Linked DNA regions of Homo sapiens. The protein of the gene in region 1 purifies or fractionates together with the protein of each later gene. This does not show direct contact. Each region holds a gene or a part of one and is shown in the gene's direction. Other genes may lie near its edges. The genes, in order: FAM163A and WDR47.

What was found.
Region 2: the proteins of FAM163A (region 1) and WDR47 purify together in Homo sapiens (affinity purification with mass spectrometry; 2 studies listed by BioGRID and IntAct, with this or other methods). This does not show direct contact.

Annotation. Positions count from the first base shown.
Region 1 is NC_000001.11:179,736,853-179,748,107, forward strand, and holds the start of FAM163A (protein FAM163A), read left to right. Parts: upstream 1-6,438; 5' UTR 6,439-6,571; exon of another isoform or gene 6,572-6,714; intron 6,715-11,255.
Region 2 is NC_000001.11:109,036,801-109,048,664, reverse strand, and holds the start of WDR47 (WD repeat-containing protein 47), read left to right. Parts: upstream 1-6,562; 5' UTR 6,563-6,803; exon of another isoform or gene 6,804-7,145; intron 7,146-7,692; exon of another isoform or gene 7,693-7,715; intron 7,716-7,739; exon of another isoform or gene 7,740-7,797; intron 7,798-11,864.

The DNA of each region.
Region 1 (11,255 bases):
ATTGGCATTGCTGTGGAGAAATTGGAACCTTTGTACACTGTTGGTTGGAATGTAAAATGGTACAGCTGCTGCGGTAAATAATATGACATTTCCTCAAATTTTAAATTTTTTCCTCAAAAAATTTAAAATTGAAAACCATATGATCCAGTAATCCCACTTCTGATATATATCTAAAAAATCAGTATCTCAAAGAGATACCTGCACTCCCATGTTCATTGCAGCATTATCACAATAGCCAAGGTATCAAAACAACCCAAATGTCCACTGACATGTAAGGAGAAAAATGTATTGTATATAAATACAAGGAAATATTATCACCCTTATAAAAGAAGGAAATCCTGCTATTTGTGACAACATGGATGAACCTGAAGGAGATGATGCTAAGTGAAAATAAGCCTGTTAGAAGAGGAAAAATATTGCATAATTCCACTTACATAAGGTATCTAAAATAGTAACTCACAGAAGCAGAAAATAAATAGTGGTTTCCAAGTAGCTGGGAGAAAGGAGGAAATGAAGAGTTGTTGTTCAATGGCTATACAGTTTCAGTTATACAAGATGAATAAATTCCAGAGATCTGCCATACAACATAATGCCTATAGTTAACAATGCTGGACTGTGCACTTAGAAGTTTGTTCAGAGGGTAGATCTCATGTTAAGTGTTCTTACAACAACGAACGCCCCATCAAAAAAGACCAAAAAGCAGCTGGGCGCGGTGGCTCACACCTGTAATCCCAGCACTTTGGGAGGCCGAGGCGGGCAGATCACAAGGTCAGGAGATCAAGACCATCGTGGCTAACACGGTGAAACTCCGTCTCTACTAAAAATACAAAAAATTAGCTGGGCGTGGTGGCAGGCGCCTGTAGTCCCAGCTACTCGGGAGGCTGAGGCAGGAGAATGGCATGAACCTGGGAGGCAGAGCTTGCAGAGAGTGGAGATCGCACCACTACACTCCAGCCTGGGCAACACAGTGAGACTCTGTCTCAAAAAAAAAAAAAATCCTTAAAAAGCGAAGAGATGCAAGGAAACTTTTAGAGGTGATGCCTATGTGTATCACCTTGATTTGTAGTGATGGTTTCGCAGTATGTCCAAACTCATTAGATTGAATACGTTAAATAGGTGCAGTTTACATGGATGAGCTTGGAGGACATTAGGTTAAGTTAAATAAGCCAGGCACAGAGTGATAAATCTGCATGTTCTTGGCACATGTGGAATCTATAAAAGTTGGTATCATAGAAGTGGAGAGGAAGGGAAGGGGAATAGGGAGAGGGGATGACCAAAGGCTGGTTAACAGATACAAAAGTACAGCTAAGTAGAAGGCATAAATTCTAGTGCTCTGTAGCACTTTAGGGTGAGAATTAATTGTATATTTTCAAATAGCTAGAAGAGTGGATTTTGAATGTTCCCAACACAAAGAAATGATAAATGTGTGAGGTGATGTATTTGCTAATTACCCTGATTTGATCATTGCACATTATATACTTGTATCAAAGTATCACATTGTACTCCATGAATATGTACAATTATTACATGTCAATTTAAAATAATAATAAAAGCAAAAATATCACAAAAATATGTAGTTTTTTGTATCAATTATACCTCAATAAAGCTGTGTTTAAAAAATCTAAAAACCAAGAATTTAGCAATATGTGAAAAGATTTATACACTTTGACCAAGTAGGCTTTATTCCAGGAATGCAAAGCTGGTTCAACTTTCAAAAATCAATGCAATCCACCATATTAAAAGGCTAAAAAAAGAAAAAATCACATGGCTATACAAACTAATGTAAAAGCATTTGACAAAATTCAACACCCATTTATGACAAAATTCTCAGAAAAATACAAATAGAAGGCAAATTAGATACCTATAGCTAATCTATAATTAATCATGAAAGACTGAATGCTTTCTCCCTAATTTATATCAAAATATCAATGAGAATTTTTGTATTAATAGATATAGAGGAGATTATTCTAATATTTAAACAGAAAGGCAAAGGAACTAGAAGAGCTAAAACAATTTTGAATAGAAGGAATAAAGTGGGCAGAATCAGACTACCCAGTTTCAAGATTTATTATATAGCTTCAGTAATCAAGACTGTATGGTATTGGTGGAGGGATAGACACATAGATCAATGGAATGGAATAGAGAATCCAAAAATAAACCCACACAACTATGCCCAGCTGATTCTTGACAAAGGTGCAAAAGCAATTAAATGGTTAACAAATGATGCCAGAGCAACTGGACCTTATTAGGCAAGAAGAAGAAGGAGAAGAAGGAGAAGGAGAAGGAGCTGCTCAACCTAGCCCTCACATCTTATACAAAAATTAACTTATGATGGATTACCAACAGAACATGAAACAGAAAAAAAAAAAATTGGAGAAAACCTTTGGGGTTTAGGGCTAGCCAGAAAGTTCTTAGTCTTGACACCAACAACATGCTCCATAATAGAAAAAATAGTAAAATTAGACCTTATCAAAATTTAAAAATTTCTCTACAAAGTGCATGTAAAGAGGATGAAAAGACTGGGGGAAAATACTTGCAAGCCACAGATCTGAAAAAGGACCAGGATCTAGACCAAGGTTGTCCAACTCATGGCCCACTGGCCACAAGCCTCCCAGGATGGTTTTGAATGCGGCCCAACACAAATTTTTAAACTTTCTTAAAACATTATGAGAATTGTTTTGTGATTTTTTTTTTAGCTCATCAGCTGTTGTTAGTGTTTTTTATTTTATATTTTATATGTGGCCCAAGGCAATTCTTCTTCTTCCAATGTGGCCCAGAGAAGCCAAAAGACTGGACACCCCTTATCTAGACTATATAGAGAACTCTGAAAATTCAACAGTCAAAAAGACAAAACAATCCAATTAGCAAATGACCAAAAGACGTAAACAGAGATTTCACCAAAGATTGCATATAGGTGGAAATAAGGATGGCAAGTAAGCACGAGCCCCTGAAGACGTCTGACATCAGTAGTCATTAGAGGAATGGAATTTAAAATCACAATGACACATCATTATACATGTATAAGAATGGGTGAAAGTTTTAAAATATTGACAACACCAAATCCTGCCAAGGTTGTGGAGAAGCTGGATCATTCATATGTTCCTTGTTGGGATGTAAAATGGTACAATTGCTCTAGAAAACAGGCTGGCAGTCTCTTTAACAACTAAGCATGTGACTACCATACGATCTAGCAATAGTTGCCCTGGGCATTTACCTTACAAACTAGAAATAGTTCTCCTGGGCATTTATCCCAGAGATATGAAAATGTATGCTCACTTGTAAACCTGTAAACAAATGTTTGTGGCAACTTTATTTGGTTTTTGTTGTTGTTGTTGTTGTTGTTGTTGAGACGTCTTGCTCTGTTCTCCCAAGCTGAAGTGCGGTGGTTCAATCCTAGCTTACTGCAGCCTCCAACTCCTGGGTTCAAGGGATCCTCCCCCTTTAGCCTCTTGTGTAGCTGGGACTTCAGGTGTGTGCAGCCACACCCAGCTAATTTTTCATTTTTTTATGTAGAGACAGGGTCTCACTATGTTGCCTAGCCAGTCTGGAACTACTGGGCTCAAGCAATCCTCCCACCTCAGCCAACTTAATTTGTAATACCCCTGAAACTGGGGAAAAAACCCTAAATGTCCTTCATTAAGTGAATGGTTAAACAAGCTGGTGGTACATGCATACCATGAAATACTACAAGAAAAAGGAACAAAATACTGATACAACAACCTGCAACTCAGGTTGCTGCGTGGGAAAAAATTCAAAAGGTTACATATATTGATACGAAAGGATACAAATGATTTCATTTAAATAACATTCTTGAAATCACAAAATGTACCATTTTACATTTTGGAAATGGGAAACAGGTAAGTGGTTTCAAGAGATTAGAGATGGGGAAGGATGCACAGGGGAAACAGGTGTGGCTACGAAAGGGCAATATGAGGGATCTTGCGGTGGTGGAAATGTTGTGTATCTTGACTGTGTCAATGTCAATATCCTAATTATGATATTTTACTATAGTTTTTGCAAGATATTACCAATGAGGGAAACTGGGTGAAGGGTACTTGCAATCTCTCTGTATTATTTCTTACAATTGCCTACAAATCTACAATTATCTCAAAATGAAAGTTCTAATTTAAAAAGCGACTCTTGATCAAAAGATACCATTAAATGAGTAGAAGATACTTGCAGTCTCTAACTGACCAAGGCATGGTAGCAGCTAGACTTTATAAACAGCTTTTATGAATCAATAAGAAAAAGTCAGCTCAAAAAAATGGGCAAACATTTGAACAGGCACTCAGAAAACAGAAAACTCAAGTAGCCTATAAACATATGTAGAAGTGCCCAATTTCATTGGTAATTAGGGATATGAAACGAAGATCACAGTGAGACACCATTACATCTCCGCCAGACTGGCAAAACATAAGAAGTCTAATAATATTATATTTTGGCAAGGATGCGGAGCAATGGCAATTACCGTACATCTCTGATGGGAGTCTAAATTTTGTGGCCACTTTGGAAAACAATTTGGCATGATCTAATAAAACTAAATATATGCATACCCTATAGTCCAGTAATTTCACCCCAAGGTATACATCCTAAAGATTGCACTTGCATACCAGGAGATATACACAAAAATGTCATTAGCAATAGCACTTGTAATAGCCCCAATGGGAAAAACCCAAATATCTAAAGTGCCAGAATGGACAAAGAAATTGTGATATGTCCATACAAGGGAATATTAAGTAGCAATGAAAATGAATGAACTACAACTACATGCCACAAAAGTAGATGACTCTTACAACCAAATGGAAGAAGAGGCCAGGCACACACAAAAATATGCATGCAATATTATTCAATTTATAGAAAGTTCAAAACCAAGCAAAACTAAACTGTAGTGGTTAGGGATACATTACAAATTGGTAGAAACTATAAAGATACGTAAGGAAGTAATTACCATAAAGTCAGGATAGTTGCTTTAGGGGGAAGGGAAGGACTTGTGGAAGGGAATTGGTGGAGCAGGGGAACCTCTGGGGTGGTAGCAATGACCTGGGTGGTGTTTGGTTTATGATTCATTAGGCTATGAAGGTACGTTGTTTTCACTTTTCTGTGTTACAGTTTATAACAAAATCACACGTCCTCTTCATATTTCATTGTTTTGCCTTTGAGATGAGGAAGAATGTAGGCACGAGCCTTAACTGTGCTGAGAAAAGACGGCACATGAAAATCTGAGCTCAAAATGTAAAACCTGTGAGTAGAGTTAGAGTAAAAAGTGGAGTGTGCTGCAACAACAGTAGACTTGCTGGAATGATGAGGTGGTGGCTTGCCTTGGGATTTTTGTTTTTTAACAGTGTATTAGGAATAATAAGGTTGCTCCAGGTGCTAAATTTCTTACTCCCCTTCTTTAGAAGTTGGACCTAGGCTGAGGGTCCACAGTTTTTAAATGTTTTGGAGTTTTCTGTTTTTGTTTTTCAAATGGATTCCCTGATCACCTTTGCCTTGAATCCCCAGAACTAACCTGCCTAAGAAGAGAGGAAAACTGTTGATGTAGTGGGAACGCTCCCTCCTCGAGCATTAACCGGGTTGACCCCACCCCTCTGTCCTCGCTGTCTTCAGTCCAATCAAGATCGGAAAGCAGGATCAAGAGAAAGATGATCAGACCGGAACAGGTAAACGTTCCATATAGAGATGCTTCGGAAGTGCGGAGAAGTGACAGCTTATCCCCTCTCAGGCCGTCATGTTCTCTCAGCAGACCCTCTGAATTACTGATGTCAGAACTTATTGGCTGGGCTACAGCACATAAGCAACTCCTAGAGTTTTAAGACATTAAAAGAAGGTGATTTCAGACAAGAAATCTAGCGCACCATTCAGGTTTCTCCTCGTGTCGAGGCATTGCTTCTCTCCCTTCCTGCCTCTTCCTGCCAGACTTCACCGTCACAGCTCTAATCACACCCTGACTGATCTGATCCCGCCCTGCCACGAGGCCCGGGTACCCCTCAGCGGCGGGGACATCCAGGTGTCCCTGGATTTCCAGGGCACAGTGCGGGCCGGAAATAGGAACACAGAGGAGCCCTTCGGGAGGCTCTCGAGGCAGTCTCTTTCCAGTGGATAGCGACACACCCTGGTCCCTAAGATTCTCATGCTCTCCGAATTTTCCGTCCTGGACCCGATCTGTAGGGCGCAAAGTCCCCTGTACTGAGGCGTTCCCAGGGCGCCCGCCTCCCGCGTTTACATTTCTTAGGCAAAAAGGCAGCGGAGCTAAGCAGGGGTGTTTGGAAGGCGCCCGTTGCGCTGTTTGACTGCGTGGCTTCACTTGGCCCGCGTGCATCAGCCTCTCTGGCGGGGGATTCTCCCCGGACTCCGGCCAGCGCCAATCAGGTCGCGCGGTACCTGCCCCCAGCCCTGGCCACCTGGAGGGGCGATGAGGCTCCACGCCCGGAGCAGGGCAGTCCTCGGAGCGCCGGGGAGGCCGCGGAGCCTCACGTGTGCCGCCCCAGCCGCTGGCGCCCGGAAGGACGCGCTGCGACCCCGTGGGAGCCGAACGCGGGAGTCGCTGCCCGAGCGGAGCTGCTCAGCCGCGGTAACGGGTCGGGGCCTCATCGTGCAGGGGAGCGAGCGGAGGGGCGGGGCGGGGCGCGGGCGGGCTGAGGAGCCGCCGGGCTCGGGCTCCGCGCGGGGATGTGTCTGGCCACCGCGTACTTTCGAGGGCGCCTCAACACCCGGGTAAGCGCGCCCCGGCTGCCTCCCTCTGCCCACCGCGCCGCCTTCAGCGTAGCAGTTCCCCACTGGGTCTGGGTCTGCGCCCTGGCTCTCCCTCTCCGCGCCAGGGGCCTCTCGCTCCGAGGGGCGCGGCGACTCGGGGGCATCTCCGGCCTCGTGGCCAGACCGCGGGTGGCGGTGCTCGCGCCTCGGGGCCGGACTTGCCGGGTCCCTGCCCCCGGGCCGTGCCGAAGGCGCTCTACTCAGCGTGTCTGCAGCGACCCGCTTCTCTGCGCTTTCAGCCGGGCCGGACCTCACGCGGACGCCGCTGCTGCTGCTGCGCCTCGCGCCCGCCGCCACCCGGGGAGCATGAGGCCGGGGCAGGGGACCCGGGTAGGGTGGGGGCCGACCGGCGGGGTCTGCTGGGCCAATGCGCCGCCGTCGGTCAGTGAGTCCGGATTCGTGCCGGCAACTGTGGGCAGCCTTGAGACCGGGGCTCGGTTTGCTGGTGATTTTTCCGAAGTTTTACAAAATAAAGAGGGCGAAGTGCCTTCGCGGCGCGGCGTGGGCATGCAGGCGGCAGGGCCTGTGGGAGCCGGCGTCTCGGCCAGCGAGTCTGGGGCCAGGACAGCGGGGGTAGGACGGAGAAGCCGGACGTGCCCGTGGGGCCGCGGTGTCCTTGCTCCCGAGGCCCCAGAGCGGGCGACCGCACTCCGATTCCAGAGGGCCCTGCGCGCTCAAGGCGCCGGCCACACGGAAGCCTCCGCCCCGCGGCCCAGAGGGGGGCCTGGCCAAGCAGAGAGCAGAGCGGGCAAGCAGAAGGCAGTGTGGGGACGAGGCCCGCATTGGGCTGCTGGGACCCCGCCACCCGGCCTGGCCTGGGTGGGGCGGGTAGAGGCCGAGAGCCGCGCGCCGGGGCCCTGGGTGGGTGGCATCCTGGTTCTCTGCGGCTCCGAAGGCCGCGAGGGAAGTCAGGGGTGCAGATCTGTTCCCTCGGTCAGCGCCCTTTGGCCGACACACACCAGCCGTGTTTTCCTGTCACACTGGGGGTTCCTTTCCTCTGAGTGGAACTGTGGGGCCCTGGAAGTTTGCTAGTCCTGGCAAGTTTGACGTGACGGGGACGCAGTCATCCAACCTGCAGGCGGAGGCCCGCAGGCACTTTCTCCTGTCATTTCGCCCACCTGGGCCCTCCCCCAGGGCGCCCAGGGGGCCCCATCCTGAGATTCCGAGGGGGCCGCAGCGTGGCTGGCAGGACCGACGTCTGCGCAGTTGCGTCTGTGTCCTGCTTGGTCCTCTAGCAGCTGAGCCAGACACATGTTTTATGTCGTGTGGGAGACAAACAATAACTGCGGGCTTCAATCCCGCATGTTCGCTTTGCCTAAGATTCGCTGGAGTCTGTGTCCTGAGGGGAAAGGCAGCTTTCCTTCTGCCCTAATGAAATACTTGCATGTAACAGACGTTCAGACCCTGAAAGAGGTGGACCCCGGGGAAGGAACAGTAAAGGTACATGCTCTGAAAACAGATTTTCTTAGCCTTCTCTAGGGAGGTTTCAGTTCCCATGCCTAAGAGAATCTAAACCAGCAGGTACAGACAGGGTCATGCTGGCGTCCAGAGGGGAAGTAATGTGTGGCTCTCGGAGGGTCCTGCTGGGGCATCAGGCAGATCGGCAGCGGCCCTGCCAGGGCTAGAGATCTGCATTCAGTGACCTCATCAGGCATACTGTTCTGGAAAGGCAAGGTGAGATGGGCTCGTGCAGATGAGAGCAGGTCCCCCTGTTTGGCCCAAGAATCTCTGTTTTTTCTCTAGCTTGCCGTCTGTAACTGGAAATGACCCCGGCTTAGTTCAGGGAGTGCTTCAGCCTGAGTGCAAACATCAGCTGGTAACAGGGGAGCCTGGCCCCAGCACAGTCCAGTCCTCACCCAGAGGCCCACGCTGGGATTTTCCTGATCTGCAAACTTTACAAGGCTGAGGTGGATGAGAGGAGAAGTTGGGAATCTTCTGGGTGGCCACTTAACAAAAAAGTCATTTGACTCTGGTAGGGCCATTCCAGGGTCTGTCCATTGTGAAAAGTGCCCTGGGGTTTAGAATCTGGCCTGGTGATTATTAACATTAATGAAAGTTGCTAACATTTATTAAGTACCTGCTATGTGCCAGACACAAGGTTTTGCAAAATTACTATTATTTCCCCATTTTTCGTGTGATGAAACTGAGTTTGGGGGTAGGGTAAACGATTTGCCAAGATCATAAAGCTAGTTAATGGCAGAGCAGAGCTTGAAGCCCAGGTCTCTTTGGTTCCAAAGTCACTACTCCTTCCTCGGGGCCACTTTCTTCCAATTAAGAACAGACACACATGTGGTAGCTGGAAATCCAGAATTGTCGTGAATAAAGACTCTTACTTGTAGATCCAAGAGATATTTATAACCCCATTAGACTCTAGACTTCAGAAAGTGCTGGCCTGGTAAACAGCCAGCACTTCCTTCTCTCTGTCACTCAAGGGTTTAACTCCTACACAAAGGACTAATTTCTTATTAAGTACAAATCTTTCAACTAGCAAACATCAAAGAGATAAACCGTTGATGAGGTTGTAGAAAAACAGGTACTTTCATATATTGCTGCTGGGAGAGTAAATTGGTACAACTTTGGAGGGCATTTTTGGAAACACTTGTCAAAATTATAAACGCCCATGCCATCTGACCTAGTGATTCCATTTTTAGGAATTGAACTTGTTGTTAAACTTGCATATGGGCACAAAGATATATGTACATTATAGCACTGTTCGAACTGTGAAAGAACAACTTACATGCTTATCAAAGGGGGACTTGTTAAGTGTCTTATGGTACTTCCAGAGAGTCAAATAGCGTCCTATTCATTCATGGAAAAAAGAATTAGTAAGTTTACTATATAACTGATATGGAATGATTTCCAAGATATATGGCTAAGTGGAAAAAACAACATGCCTGGAGTGTTTATAATATGCTGCTGCTCGTGTTATACAAGAGGAAGGAGAGTCTTAGGGTATTTGCTTGTCTGTGTATAACTATAGACACAAAACCTAATCATACCTGTTACCTCCAGGAAAAGTGGCCTGTAAACCCTTTTGTACCTTTTGAATTCTGAACCATGGGAATACGTTAACTATTTTAAAATTCTCTTTGTCCGTCCTGTGCCTGGTATGTTCCCTCAAACACTTTTCCAGCTTAACATTGTGGGGTGACGTACCCCACCCCCTTTTGGTTGCTTGAGAGGTTCCCTTTGGATTAAAAGCCAAAGGGCTGTGAGACTGCACAGTGCCCATAGTATCTGGGCCATCCAGTATTCCTTTGAAATATACAGAGTTGTACTTGGAAAGCTGGGGAGAGGTGTCTTTGGACAGCAGGCTCTCTGAGCTGGGTAGGCAAGTTATGATCATCCAGCCTTGAAAACAATCTGCAGAAATAGAAACCACCCCTTTCTCTATTGCCCTAATGTTCCCTTGTACAGGATAAAGTGTCAGCGACTGGATAGGATTGGGTAAAGGAGCAAGAGGAACACTGTGACTGGACATCAGAAAGGGCAAAAGATACGTAGGAGGGCTATTTCTGGTGTTGCATTTGGACCTCAAAAAGGTGAAGAGAGAGATGCTTGGAAAAAAAAAAAAAAGGTTTGACATTATCCTAGAGTCTAGGGCTGTATTGCCCCAGAGAAAGAAGGAAGATTATTGGCGCAGTTGTCACTGCATCAATCAGTGTGTCCTACATGCCCCTTTGAGCATTTCTTATCAGCACAGATGCCCGGCTCAGTTCCCCCTACTTCCAAGCACCCATTTTTGCTGATCCCTCAGCCTGGAAGCCGATGGATACACAAAGGGGATGGGGGAGATATTAGGTACTGCCTTTCTTTTTGGGGTGGGTGATGGGACAGGCTGTTGAATAGCAGAAACAATGGAAGAAGGACTTGCTTCCAGCCACAAAAGATGGGTCCTCCAACACCATTAGGTGGAAAGCCTTCATTGAGAGCTTTCTATGTTTCAGTCACTCTGCTAAGCCTACACTATTTCATTGAATCTCTTTATCTCGGGTATATGTGAGAGCCCAGGCTCTTTGGTATCAAGCAGCATGTCTTTCTGCTCTCCCTTCACTGACTTTTCCATTCTCTACGCAGTAAGCTGCAGCACAGGCGCAACTGCATCACATGGGTGCTTACAGACCTGGTTTTGGGTTATAACAGTATGTGGCTGAGCATTGCATGCTTTGATGGATCAGTTGAAATTTCTGCAGTATGGATAGATTTGTACAAGGCACAGTTCAGAAACAAAGCAGTCAGTGTTCTGGGTTTGGATTTCCATTTCTCTTATTTCTGTTTCTGTGTGTGCATTAGGGCTGGGGCTGAGTAGACTGTGCATGTGATGTTCCTAGGGAAAGGGGGAGGAGGGGGAGGGGGAGGGGGAGGAGGAAGAGGACTAGGAGGAGGGCAGCTTCTCATTGCTTTGGTCCAGACACCAGTGGTGTGGAAGGCTGTGAAGATGAGCTTGTGAGGCCCTGTGTCTGCACCCAAGGAGAAAGGTCAGCAAGGTGGCCACTAAGCCC
Region 2 (11,864 bases), about 71 Mb from region 1:
TGAGAACATAAGCAAAGCATTTCATTTTGTGTTCAATGAATGCCAAAGCCAATCTAATACTTCACTGGGGTTTTCCTTCCTTCCTTCCTTTCTTTTCTTTCCCTTCCTTCTTTCCTTCCTTCCTTCCTTCTCTCCTTCCTTCCTTCCTTTTCTTTCCCTTCCTTCCCCCCTCCGTCCCTCCCTCCCTTCTTTCCTTTTCTTTCCCTTCCTTCCCTCCTCCCTCCCTCCCTCACTCCCTCCCTCCCTCCCTCCCTTCCTTCCTTCCTTCCTTCTGATGTAACTGTGGCAGTCTTATATTTGCAACTCAAGAAGGAATCAACTGCGTTCCAAAACAGCTAAATATGCAGGTCACCCAAAAAAGGTTTTGTTTGTTTGTTTGTTTGTTTTGAGACAGAGTCTCACTCTGTCTCCCAGTCTGGAGTGCAGTGGTACGATCTCGGCTCACTGCTGCAATCTCTGCCTCCCAGGTTCAAGCAATTCTCCTACCTCAGCCTTCTGAGTAGCTGGTATTACAGGCGCCCACCACCACTCCCAGCTAATTTTTGTATTTTTAGTAGAGATGGGGTCTCATCACGTTGGCCAAGCTGGTCTCGAACTCCTGACCTCAAATGATCCACCCGCCTAAGCCTCCCAAAGTGCTGGGATTACAGGTGTGAGCCATGGCGCCTGGCCATGAAGGTATTATTATTATTATTATTATTATTATTATTGTTATTATTATTGAGACAGAGTCTCTCTGTGTTGCCCAAACTGGAGCGCAGTGGTGCAATCTCGGCTCACTGCAACTTCTGCCTCCCGGGTTCAAGCGATTCTCCTGCCTCAGCATCCTGAGTAGCTGGGATTACAGGCGCCTAACACCACGCCTGGCTAATTTTTGTATTATTAATAGAGATGGGATTTCACCATGTTGGTCAGGCTGGTCTCAAACTCCTGACCTCGTGATCTGCCCACCTCGGCCTCCCAAAGTGTTGGGATTACAGGCATGAGCCACTGCGCCTGGCACAGGTATTTTTTAAACTGCCACATTCACTCCGAAGCCCATTCATCTCCTTCAGCATCCCACAGATGAAGCACATGTTCCGCTTAGCTTGATAACAAGGTGAGGCACACTTTGCACTGCTGACGTCACAGGAAAGCTGTCTATAAAACTATACTTCTGATACTGGGCTCCAGCTTTGTTCTCACAGGTAATCATCCTCATCCAGGAGAGCAGCTGTCTGAGCAAACTCTAACTCATGCTCTTATTGCTCTGTCAAAGCTGGGTCCATGACAACCTCAGGTAGGGGAGTACAGGGTAGCAAACCCCAAGTTAGGGCCTCCAATGAGCTTCCTAGCAAGCCAGAGAAAGGGCTTTTCAAAGTTGTAGTTAGTTTTGGCAGTAATGTCATAGTACTGAAGATTCTTCTTTCGGTGGAAGACAATAGATTTTGCCTTCACTTACCTGTCCTTAATATCCACTTTGTTGCCACACAACATCATGGTGATGATTTCACACATTGGCACCAAATCTCTATGCCAGTTAGGCACATTCTTGTACGTAACTCTTGGTGTTACATCAAACATTATGATGGCACACTGGGCTATGGGTTCGATGTAATAACCATCTCTGTTCACCACATTTCTCCTGGCCGGCTGTATCCCATTTATTGAACTTAATACATCTTCTGTTGGTGTGGAACACTTGGGTGATGAACCTCAACACCCATACCTCTCAAATGTGGCTACATACCTCTCAAATTCACCAGTCAAATGATGTTTCACCAAAGTAGTTTTTCCAGTACCACCGCCACCAACCAATACAAGTTTGAACTAGACCTGGGGCTCTCCCTGGGCAGCCATCATGGTGTTCCTTCCAGAAGTGTCTCCTGCCCGTTGGACTGAGTGGTTCTTCTGTTTTTCAAGCACTCTCCCTAGCAGGTGATCGGTTGTTTGTCAGATTGTCCCTGATTAGTTACTCTTTCTAGAGCTAGTAGAAGATTTAAATATTTAAAGGATGCTGGGCTGGGCACGATGGTTCATGCCTGTAATCCTAGCTCTTCGGGAGGCCAAGGGGAAAGGATCATTTTAGCACCAGCCTGGGCAACAAGGCAAAACCCTGTCTCTACTTAAAAAAAAAAAAAAAAAAAATTAGCCAGGCATGGTGGCTTGCACCTGTAGTCTCAGCTACTGGGCTGGGGAAGCGGAGGTGGAAGGATCGCTTGAGCCCAGGAGTTCTAGGCTGCAGAGAGCCATGACTGCCCTACTACACTCCAGCCTGGGCGACAGAGTGAGACACTGTCACAAAAAACAAACAAACAAACAAACAAAAACCCTCTAGAATTCTATGATTCTGACCCAATAATTAATTATTAACGATTTGTTAATAAATGTAATTAATTCCTAGCTGGGCACGGTGGCTCACATCTGTAATCCCAGCACTTTGGGAGACTGAGGTGGATGGATCACTTGAGGTCAGGAGTTCGAGACCAACCTGGCCAACATGGTTATACCCATTCTCTACTAAAAATACAAAAATTAGTTGGGTGTGGTGGCATGGGCCTGTAATCCCATCTATTCGGGAGGCTGAGAAAGGAGAATTGCTTGAACCCGGGAGGCAGAGGTTGCAGTGAGCTGAGATCGCCCCACTGCACTCCAGCCTGGGCGACAGAGCAATACTGTCTCAAAAAACAAAAAAAAAAAAAAAGAAAGAAAATGTAATTAATTCCTAAAGTTTCAGAATATGGGTCCATGGGGAAAAGGTTCTAACTGATAAAAATGTGGGAAATGGGATAAAAAATGAAGTTAAAAAAAAAAGGATACTGGTTCTCAAAACTTCTTGTTTGATCATAAAGATTTAGAAGTGGTTTCTTAGATGAACTATACTAGCAAAATAATTGAGATACTACTTTCAGGAAAAACGTATCTGCCTACTTTTTCAATTTAAACACTCTGTAATGTGTTGTTTGTTTGCTTGTTTTGTTTTCAATATCAAGATCCTGGGTAACATTCAATTATGTTTATATTTATTTGCCTGTCACTTATCATTAAGAGGGTTCATAATGAAGACTTTCTTCCAGGAGTTACTGACTAGGCAATTGAAATTTTGTAGTTCAGCTTTTGTGTGTTGTTTTCTCTGAATGCATAAGTATTTTTCTTAGAAATGTTTCCTCGGCTGGGTGCAGTAGCTCATGCCTGTAATCCCAGCACTTTGGGAGGCCATGGCGGGAGGATCACTTGAGGTCAGGGGTTTGAGACCAGCCTGGCCAACATGGTGAAACTTCGTCTCTACTAAAAATACAAAAATTAGCCGAGTGTGGTGGCACACAAATTAGCTGAGTGTGGTGGCACCTGCCTGTAATCTCAGCTACTCAGGGGGCTGAGGCAGAATTGCTTGAACCCAGGAGGCAGAGGTTGCAGTGAGCTGAGATTGCGCCATGTACTCCAGCCTGGGTGACAGAGTGACTCCGTCTCAAAAAAAAAAGAAAGCCAGGCACAGTGGCTTATGCCTGTAATCCCCAGGACTTTGGGAGGCCAAGGCAGGCAGGCGGATCACGAGGTCGAGACCAGCCTGACCAACATGGTGAAACCCTGTCTCTACTAAAAATACAAAAACTAGCTGGGCATGGTGGTGTATGCTGTAGTCCCAGCTACTCTGGGGGCTGATGCAGGAGAGTCGCTTGAACCCAGGAGGAGGAGGTTCAGAGTGCCAAGATCGCACCACTGCACTCCAGCCTGGGCGACACAGTGAGACCCCATCTCAAAAAAAAAAAAAAAAAAAGGAAAAAAAGAAAAGAAAAGAAAAAAAAGAAATGTGTATCTTCAAGCTCTCGCTTCTTTTATCTTGAACTGGACAAGATTTTGTATTCCCAGAAATATGGTTTAAATTTTGTTTATTTTTAATTTTTATAGTTACATAATAGTTGTAGATATTTCTGGAGTAAATACAATGTGTAATGATCAAATCTGGGTAATTGGGATATCCATCACCTTAGAAATGCATTATTATTATTAAGACACAGGGTCTTACTCAGTCACCCAGGCTGGAGTGCAGTAGTGTGATTATAGCTCATGGTAGCCTCGGACTTTGAGCTCAAACTATCTTCTCACTTCAGCCTCTCAAGTAGCTAGGACTGCAGGTGTGTCTCACCGTGTCTAATTTTTTATTCTTGTTTTTGTAGAGAGGGAGTCTCACTATGTTGCCTAGGCTAGTCTCTAACTCATGGCCTCATGTGAGCCTCTGGCCTAAGCCTCCCAAAGTGCTGGGATTTCAGGCATGAGCCACTGTGCCCACCCATTTATTATTTCTTTTCTTTTTTTTTGAGACGCGGTCTCGCTCTGTCACCAGGCTGGAGTGCAGTGGCCCAATCTCGGCTCACTGCAACCTCCGCCTCCCGGGTTCAAGTGATTCTCCTGCCTCAGACTCCCGAGTAGCTGGGACTACAGGCGCACACCACCACACTCGGCTAATTTTTGTATTTTTAGTAGAGACAGGGTTTCACCATGTTGGCCAGGATGGTCTCGATCTCTTGACCTCTTGACCTCGTGATCTGCCCGCCTCGGCCTCCCAAAGTGCTGAGATTACAGGCATAAGCCACCACGCTTGGCCTGCCATTTACTATTTCTTTGTGTTGGGAACATTCTGAATCTTCTCTTCTAGCTGTTTGGAAATATAGAATAGATTATTGTTAACTATAGTCACCCAATTATGCTATTGAGCACTAGAATTTATTCCTGCTACATAACTGTATTTTTGTACCCATTAACCTCTTTATCCCCCCTTTGCCCTCCACTACACTTTCTAGCCTCTGGTAACCACCATTCTATTCACTACCTCCACGAGATCAATTCTTTTAGTTCCCACATATGTGTGAGAACGTGCAATATTTGTCTTTTTGTGCTTGTCTTGTTTCACTTAACATAATGTCCTCCCGTCCCATCCATGTTGCTGCAAATGACAGGATTTCATTCTTTCTTAATGGGTGAATAAGATTGTATTGTGTGGCCGGGCGCGGTGGCTCACGCCTGTAATCCCAGCACTTTGGGAGGCCGAGGCGGGTGGATCACGAGGTCAGGAGATCAAGACCATCCTGGCTAACACGGTGAAACCCCGTTTCTAATAAAAATACAAAAAAAAAAAAAAAAATTAGCCGGACCTGGTGGCGGGCGCCTGTAGTCCCAGCTACGCGGGAGGCTGAGGCAGGAGAATGGCGTGAACCCGGGAGGCGGAGTTTGCAGTGAGTCGAGATGGCGCCACTGCACTCCAGCCTGGGCGACAGAGCGAGACTCCGTCTCAAAAAAAAAAAAAAAAAAAAAAGATTGCATTGTGTATATGTACCACATTTTCTTTATCCATTTGTCTGTTGATTGACATAGGTTGATTCTATATTTTGGCTATTGTGAATAGTACTGCAATAAGCATGGGAGTGCCAGAAATATTTTTGATGTTTATTCTCTTTACCAGACTGTTACCCCATTTTCCCCTTTTGGGAGGTCCAGCTCACTCTGGACTTTCGCCTCTGTGAGGATGATGTTCTTTTTTCTGTGAGACGGAGTCTCTCGCTCTGTCACCCAGGCCGGAGTGCAGTGGCATGATCTCGGCTCACTGCAACCTCCGTCTCCCAGGTTGAAGCGATTCTCCTGCCTCAGCCTACCAAGTAGCTGTGATTACAGGAGGCTTGCCAGCACACCCGGCTAATTTTTGTATTTTTAGTAGAGACGGGGTTTCACCATGTTGGCCAGGCTGGTCTCAAACTCCTGACCTCAGGTGATCCGCCCGCCTCGGCCTCCTAAAGTGCTGGAATTGCAGGCGTGAGCCACCGCGCCTGGCCGAGAATGATGTTCTTACAGGTTTGTGTAATTGTATTCTTCCTTATGGTTATACTTCCTGGATGCTTAATTAAGCTCGGTTGAACATCACGTATATTTGTGGAATAAGGGGCTTACAACCAACAGGAGTAGACAAAACCTGAACATATTAAATGTTAAGTAACTGAAAAATGCTTTCAAGGCAGATCAGCTTTGCAAAATGAGAAACCAGGAAGGGGACAAACAAACTACTGGAGTTTTCTGGGACGAAGTGGGACCTAGGAAAGCAGCGAAAGAAGGGTAGAAGGCAACATTAATTTCATTAACCTTTATTAATTATCGGGGAGGAGTATGAAGAGTCAATCCTAATGCGCAGTCTTCTCCATTTGCAGGCGACAATCCTGTTCGTGCTATTTTGGGACATGGGGTCACCGGCCAGCTAAGGGTCTACGTCCCTGCCACCAGTCTCACGCTATTGCCGCACCCGTTCTGCTACTCCCCCGGGCCCCTAGCCGGTCCCTCCAAGCCCGACCCCCGCCCGCCCCGCCCAGGCTTTGGTCCGCCCCGCCCAGGCTTTGGTCCGCCCCGCCCCTCCCCGCCCCAGCTTTGGGCCCGCCCCTCCACGCCCCTCCCCGCCCCGCCCCGCCCCGCCGACTCGCCCTTCGGCTCAGGCACCTGCCTGGCCGCCCCGCGCGGCGGGGTCCTGAGGCGCCTCGGGGAAGCGCGGCGATTGGCTGCCGCTCGCGGGTAGAGCTCGGCTCCCCGGCACTTGACAACCGCAGTCTGCAAGAGGCTGAGCTGAGGAGTCGCTGGGCCGGGAGGGGCGGACGTGAGAAGGACGGATTGACGAACTGATGGATTGACGCGCGGGCGGTAGGAGGGAGGACCGACGCCAAACCCAGACCGCCGCCGTCGTGCTCCTGCCGCAGCCCGGAGCCGGCCGCTTCGGGGCCCTGGCCGCCGGCCTCCCAGCCGCGTTCTCCTCCGCCGCTCCTCCGGGCTTGCCCTGGAGCCCTCAGGTGGGTGACTCCGGGAGTCGGAGGCTGGGTCGGTCCGCTGCACACCTCGGGTTGCCATGGTCACCCGTCGCCTCCTGTCACCACCTGACACGGCTCCGACCGGGCGGCCCCGAGGACTGTGTTTGCGGCCCCGGAGAGGGGTCTTTAGTGGGCTTGGGTGCCGACTGGGAGGGGGCTGGGGTCGTGGGTGAGGCCCCAGCATCGCGGGGTGAGGATCTGCGAACTGCTGGGCCCCGGTTCGAGGTCACCGGTCCTGGACCACACCTTTCCCACATTACCAGTTGGATTCTGGGGGCAGAGCGACGCCCCTCGCCCTGGCACTGAGCAGCAAGTGAGCGCGAGGTTCGTGCCCATCTCGCCGCTGCGCCGATTCTTCCTTCCTCGCCCCTTGGTCGAGCCCGTGCGAGAACTGAGGGGCGCGCTCGCGTCCCTTTCTGGGCACGCCTTGGCCCGGAGGAAGAGAGGGAGCGGCGGGGCTGGGAGCCCCGCTGGGGCCGGTTTTGGCCTTTCTCACATCAATGGTCGGGATGGGAGCAGGCCTTTGGGGATCTGGGTGTGGTCGCGGAAAGGGGCAGCGACTCGATTTAGAACTGGGATTGCGCTGGAGGGGCGCCTGCGTAGAAGAACGCAAGGTTGTGGAACTCAAAGGGTTAAACCGCTTCCCTTTATTGGGGAGAAAAATATTGGAACTCTAGCTCTGGGGCGAGGCCATGGGCAAAGGGGGCGGGGGCGGGGGGCGAGGGTAGGCCGGGGCGGCATTTGGGCTTTTGACCAGATGATTTTTCCTTCTCTGTACCCAGACGTGCAGTTAGTAACCGTGCATGGTATCTGAGGGGACCGTTTTTTTTTTTTGGCAACTTGGTTTTCTCTGCATAATGAAAGGAGAAGTCTTTGTTCCACCCAGATTCGTAGGTTGTGATCCTAATACTTATTTCTCTCTTTGTTGGAGACTCTGTAGAATGCCTCAAAAAGTTAATGGCACAGAAATGAACATGTAGGTTTAAAAAATGCTATAAATCTTTTTTTCACAGTAAATTCAAGTAGAATTTTTTTGTCTCCAGTGTTGGCATATGTTGCATTGGCATTTTACTAAGAAGGAGAAACGCCTAAGAGCCCATTTTCCTTTATATGGCATATTGTCGAGGTCTCATTTAGGAAGAAGATGAAATGAATAATTCTACTTTAGGTTTGGGAGATTAGGAGAGATTGCTTCCAATAGGAAAGAAACATTATTACACGGTAATGGAAAAGTCAAGTCACAACAGTATATTGTTAGGTAAAAAAGCCAAAACCCAAACACTTGAATTTGGATGCCATTATGAAGATGTAAATTTTTTTTTTTTTTTGGACGGGATTTTAACCTGTGTTTATCTCCCACTGGTCCACTTCCTGGTTCTTTTCTCCCTCGCCTTAAAAACCAGTACTGTTAAGAATGTGTCATAAGAGAACAGGGGTACTATCCTATGTTACTACTTACATAATGGTGTTCAACCTCTTTTCCTGTTTGTGAAATAGAATATATTAGTTATTTAATGGGCGGCATATGAAATGCTTAATGTATGCTGCAGTTTCAGAAACGCTTTAGTTATGAAAAGATGTGCAGTTTTCCTTAGTAGATCAGTAAGCTGAAAAATCAGATTACCTGTATTTAAGCTTTCTTTTGCTACTGATTGCATTCTTGTAAGAGCTGCTAAGCTTAACATTGACTGATTTCTCATTCTGTAAAATGGTGATGCTTGCTATTGTTTTAGTCTGAGAATGGGCTTTGAGTTGAAAGCACTTTGGAAGGCATCTGTTGATTACCTTTTTTTTTTTTTTTTTTTTTTGAGACGGAGTCTCACTCTGTCATCCAGGCTGGAGTTCAGTGGCATGATCTCGGCTCACTGCAGCCTCTGCCTCCTGGGTTCAAGCGATTCTCCTGCCTCAGCCTCCCAAGTAGCTGGGATTACAGGTGCCTGCCACCACGCCCGGCTACTTTTTGTATTTTTAGTAGAGATGGGGTTTCACCATGTTGGCTAGGCTGGTCTCGAACTCCTAGCCTCAGGTGATCCACCCGCCTTGGGCTCGCAATGTTGGGATTACAAGCTTGAGCCACCGTGCCTGACCCTGTATATTATTTTTGAACAGAAGACTTGAACCCAGGTCTTCAGACTCCAAATCCAATGCTGGCCCACACCTGAGGATACTTCAGTTTTGAGACTATTACACCGAATAGCCAAAGCTTGCATATTTCAACTAATTTTTCTCTATGTTGAGTTTGTTTCTGTTCAAGTGAAAAGATATCCTTAAAAAAGGGTTTATACCGGCTGGGCGTGGTGGCTTGTGCCAGTAATCCCAGCACTTTGGGAGGCCAAAGCGGGCGGATCACGTGAGGTCAGGAGTTTGAGACCAGCCTGGGCAACATGGTGAAACCCTGTCTTTATCAAAAATATAAAAATTAACTGGGCATGGTGGCGTGTGCCTGTAATCCCAGCTATTTGGGAGGCTGAGGTAGGAGAATTGCTTGAACACAGGAGGCAGAGGTTGCAGTGAGCCAAGATCATGCATGCCACTGCACTCCAGCCTGGGCGACAAAGCGAGATTCCACCTCAAAAAGAAAAAAAAAAAGGATTTATACCACACACTCCCTTAAAACCTTTCTTTTGTGTTCTATAGTCTTATTCACTGTAATAGCTCGATCATTGTATCCCAGTTTGTAGCATGTTGTTAATACATAGTAAATGCTCATCACTCATTACCCACCTGAACTTCTCCTGTTTAAATGGCTTCAGATGAATATTATCACAAGTAGGAGTTTCTTCATATAGTATGTTTAACATAATTGATCTCAGTGAACTTTCCAATATTTATTTATTTATTTATTTATTATTATTGTTATTATTTGAGATGGGGTCTCGCTCTGTTGCCTAGGCTGGAGTGCAGTGGCGTGATCTCGGCTCACTGCAACCTCCGCCTCCCAAGTTCAAGTGATTCTCCTGCCTCAGCCTCCCAAGTAGCTGGGATTGCAGGTGCACATACCCCCACACTTGACTAATTTTTGTATTTTTAGTAGAGACAGGGTTTCACCATGTTGGCCAGGCTGGTCTTGAATGCCTGACCTCAAGTGATCCACCCAGTTCGGCCTCCCAAAGTGTTGTGATTACAGGCGTGAGCCACTGCACCTGGCCTGTTTATTTATTTTTTGAGACAGGGTCTCACTTTATCGTTCAGGCTGCAGTACAGTGGCATGATGATAGCCCACTGCAGCCTCAAACTCCTGGGCTCAAGTGATCCTCCTACCTCAGCCTCCCGAGTAGCTAGGACTACAGGTGCTTGCCACCACACCTGGCTAATTTTTGTATTTTTTGTAGAGATAGGGTTTTGCCATGTTGCCCAGGCTGGTGTTGAACTCCTAGACTCAAGTGACCTGCCTGCCTTGGCTTCCCAAAGTGCTGGGATTACAGGCATGAGCCACTGCACCTGGCTCGATATTTTTTAAATTACTGAAATATTTTCAAAAATAAGTAAGCTTATTCCAAAGTAAATTTTTATACTTCACAGCACAGTAGCTCTCCCGCAGCAATTCATTAGCAGTCCTTTTGACACATTGTCCTTACCAAGGCTAGGAGCTCTGAAGGGAAGGAATTTACATTTATTGAGCACCAGTTGCATGCTTGCCACTCTGCTAGGAGCTTGTTCTCATTTTACAAGTCAACATCCTGTTTTAACTGAGAAATAGTACTGGGCTGGGCGAGGTGGCTCATACCTGTAATGCGAGCATTTTGGGAGGATGAGGTGGGAGGATTGCTTGAGCCCAGACGTTTGAGACCAGCCTGGGCAACATAGTGAGACCTCATGTCTACAAACAATTAAAAAAAAAATGCTAGCTGAGTGTGGTGGTGCACACCTGTGGTCCTAGCTACTGGGGAGGCTGAGGTGAGAGAATCACTTGAGCCTGGGTGGACAAGGCTCTACCAGCCTGGGAGACAGTGAGACCCAGTCTCAAAGAGAGAGAAAGAAAGAAAGATAGAAAAAAATAGTACTACAAGCAAAAAGACATAAAAATTTTATACTATTTATAATTACTAGTTATGTAGTATGCTTGACATATGTAACTCAAATAATGTTTTTTTCCTATGGCTAAGTACCATGTTTTGTGACTCTTGTTGTTGTGATGAAAAAGAAAATGGAACCTTTTATAAAATCTTTTGAGAAAATTTTATAGAATTGGGTTGGTTTTTTTTTTTTTTTTTTTTGAGACGAGGTCTCGCTCTGTCCCCCAGGCTGGAGTGCAGTGGTGCGATCTCAGCTCACTGCAAGCTCCGCCTCCCAGGTTCATGCCATTCTCCTGCCTCAGCCTCTCTGAGTAGCTGGGATTACAGGCGCCCGCCACCAAGCCCGGCTAATTTTTTATATTTTTAGTAGAGACAGGGTTTCACTGTGGTCTCGATCTCCTGACCTCGTGATCTGCCCACCTCGGCCTCCCAAAGTGCTGGGATTACAAGCGTGAGCCACCACGCCCAGTCTTGTTTTGTTTTTTGTTTTTTTTTTTTTAGACGGAGTTTTGCTCTTGTTGCCCAGGCTGGAGTGTGATGGCGTGATGTCGGCTCACCGCAACCTCTGCCTTCCAGGTTCAAGTGATTCTCCTGCCTCAGCCTCCCTAGTAGCTGGGATTACCGGCATGTGCCACCACGCCTGGCTAATTTTGTATTTTTGGTAGAGACGGGGTTTCTCCATGTTGGTCAGGCTGGTCTTGAACTCCCAACCTCAGGTGATCTGCCTGCCTCGGCCTCCCAAAGTGCTGGGATTACAGGCGTGAGCCACCGCACCTGGCGATTTTCTTTGAAACTTTAAGAAGAGCTTTGGAAATGAAATTCCGGGAAGTGCAAAAACAGCATTTCACAAATAGATGATGATATAAAGAAATTTTAGGTGTATTCATTGTAAAGAGCCTAGATGATGGGAATTGTTAGTTTCACTGTATATAGTTCTTGATCAGACCACACCTGGAGTGTTGTGCTTTATTATTTATTTATTTATTTATTTTGAGATGGAGTCTCACTCTGTCGCCCCAGGCTGTAG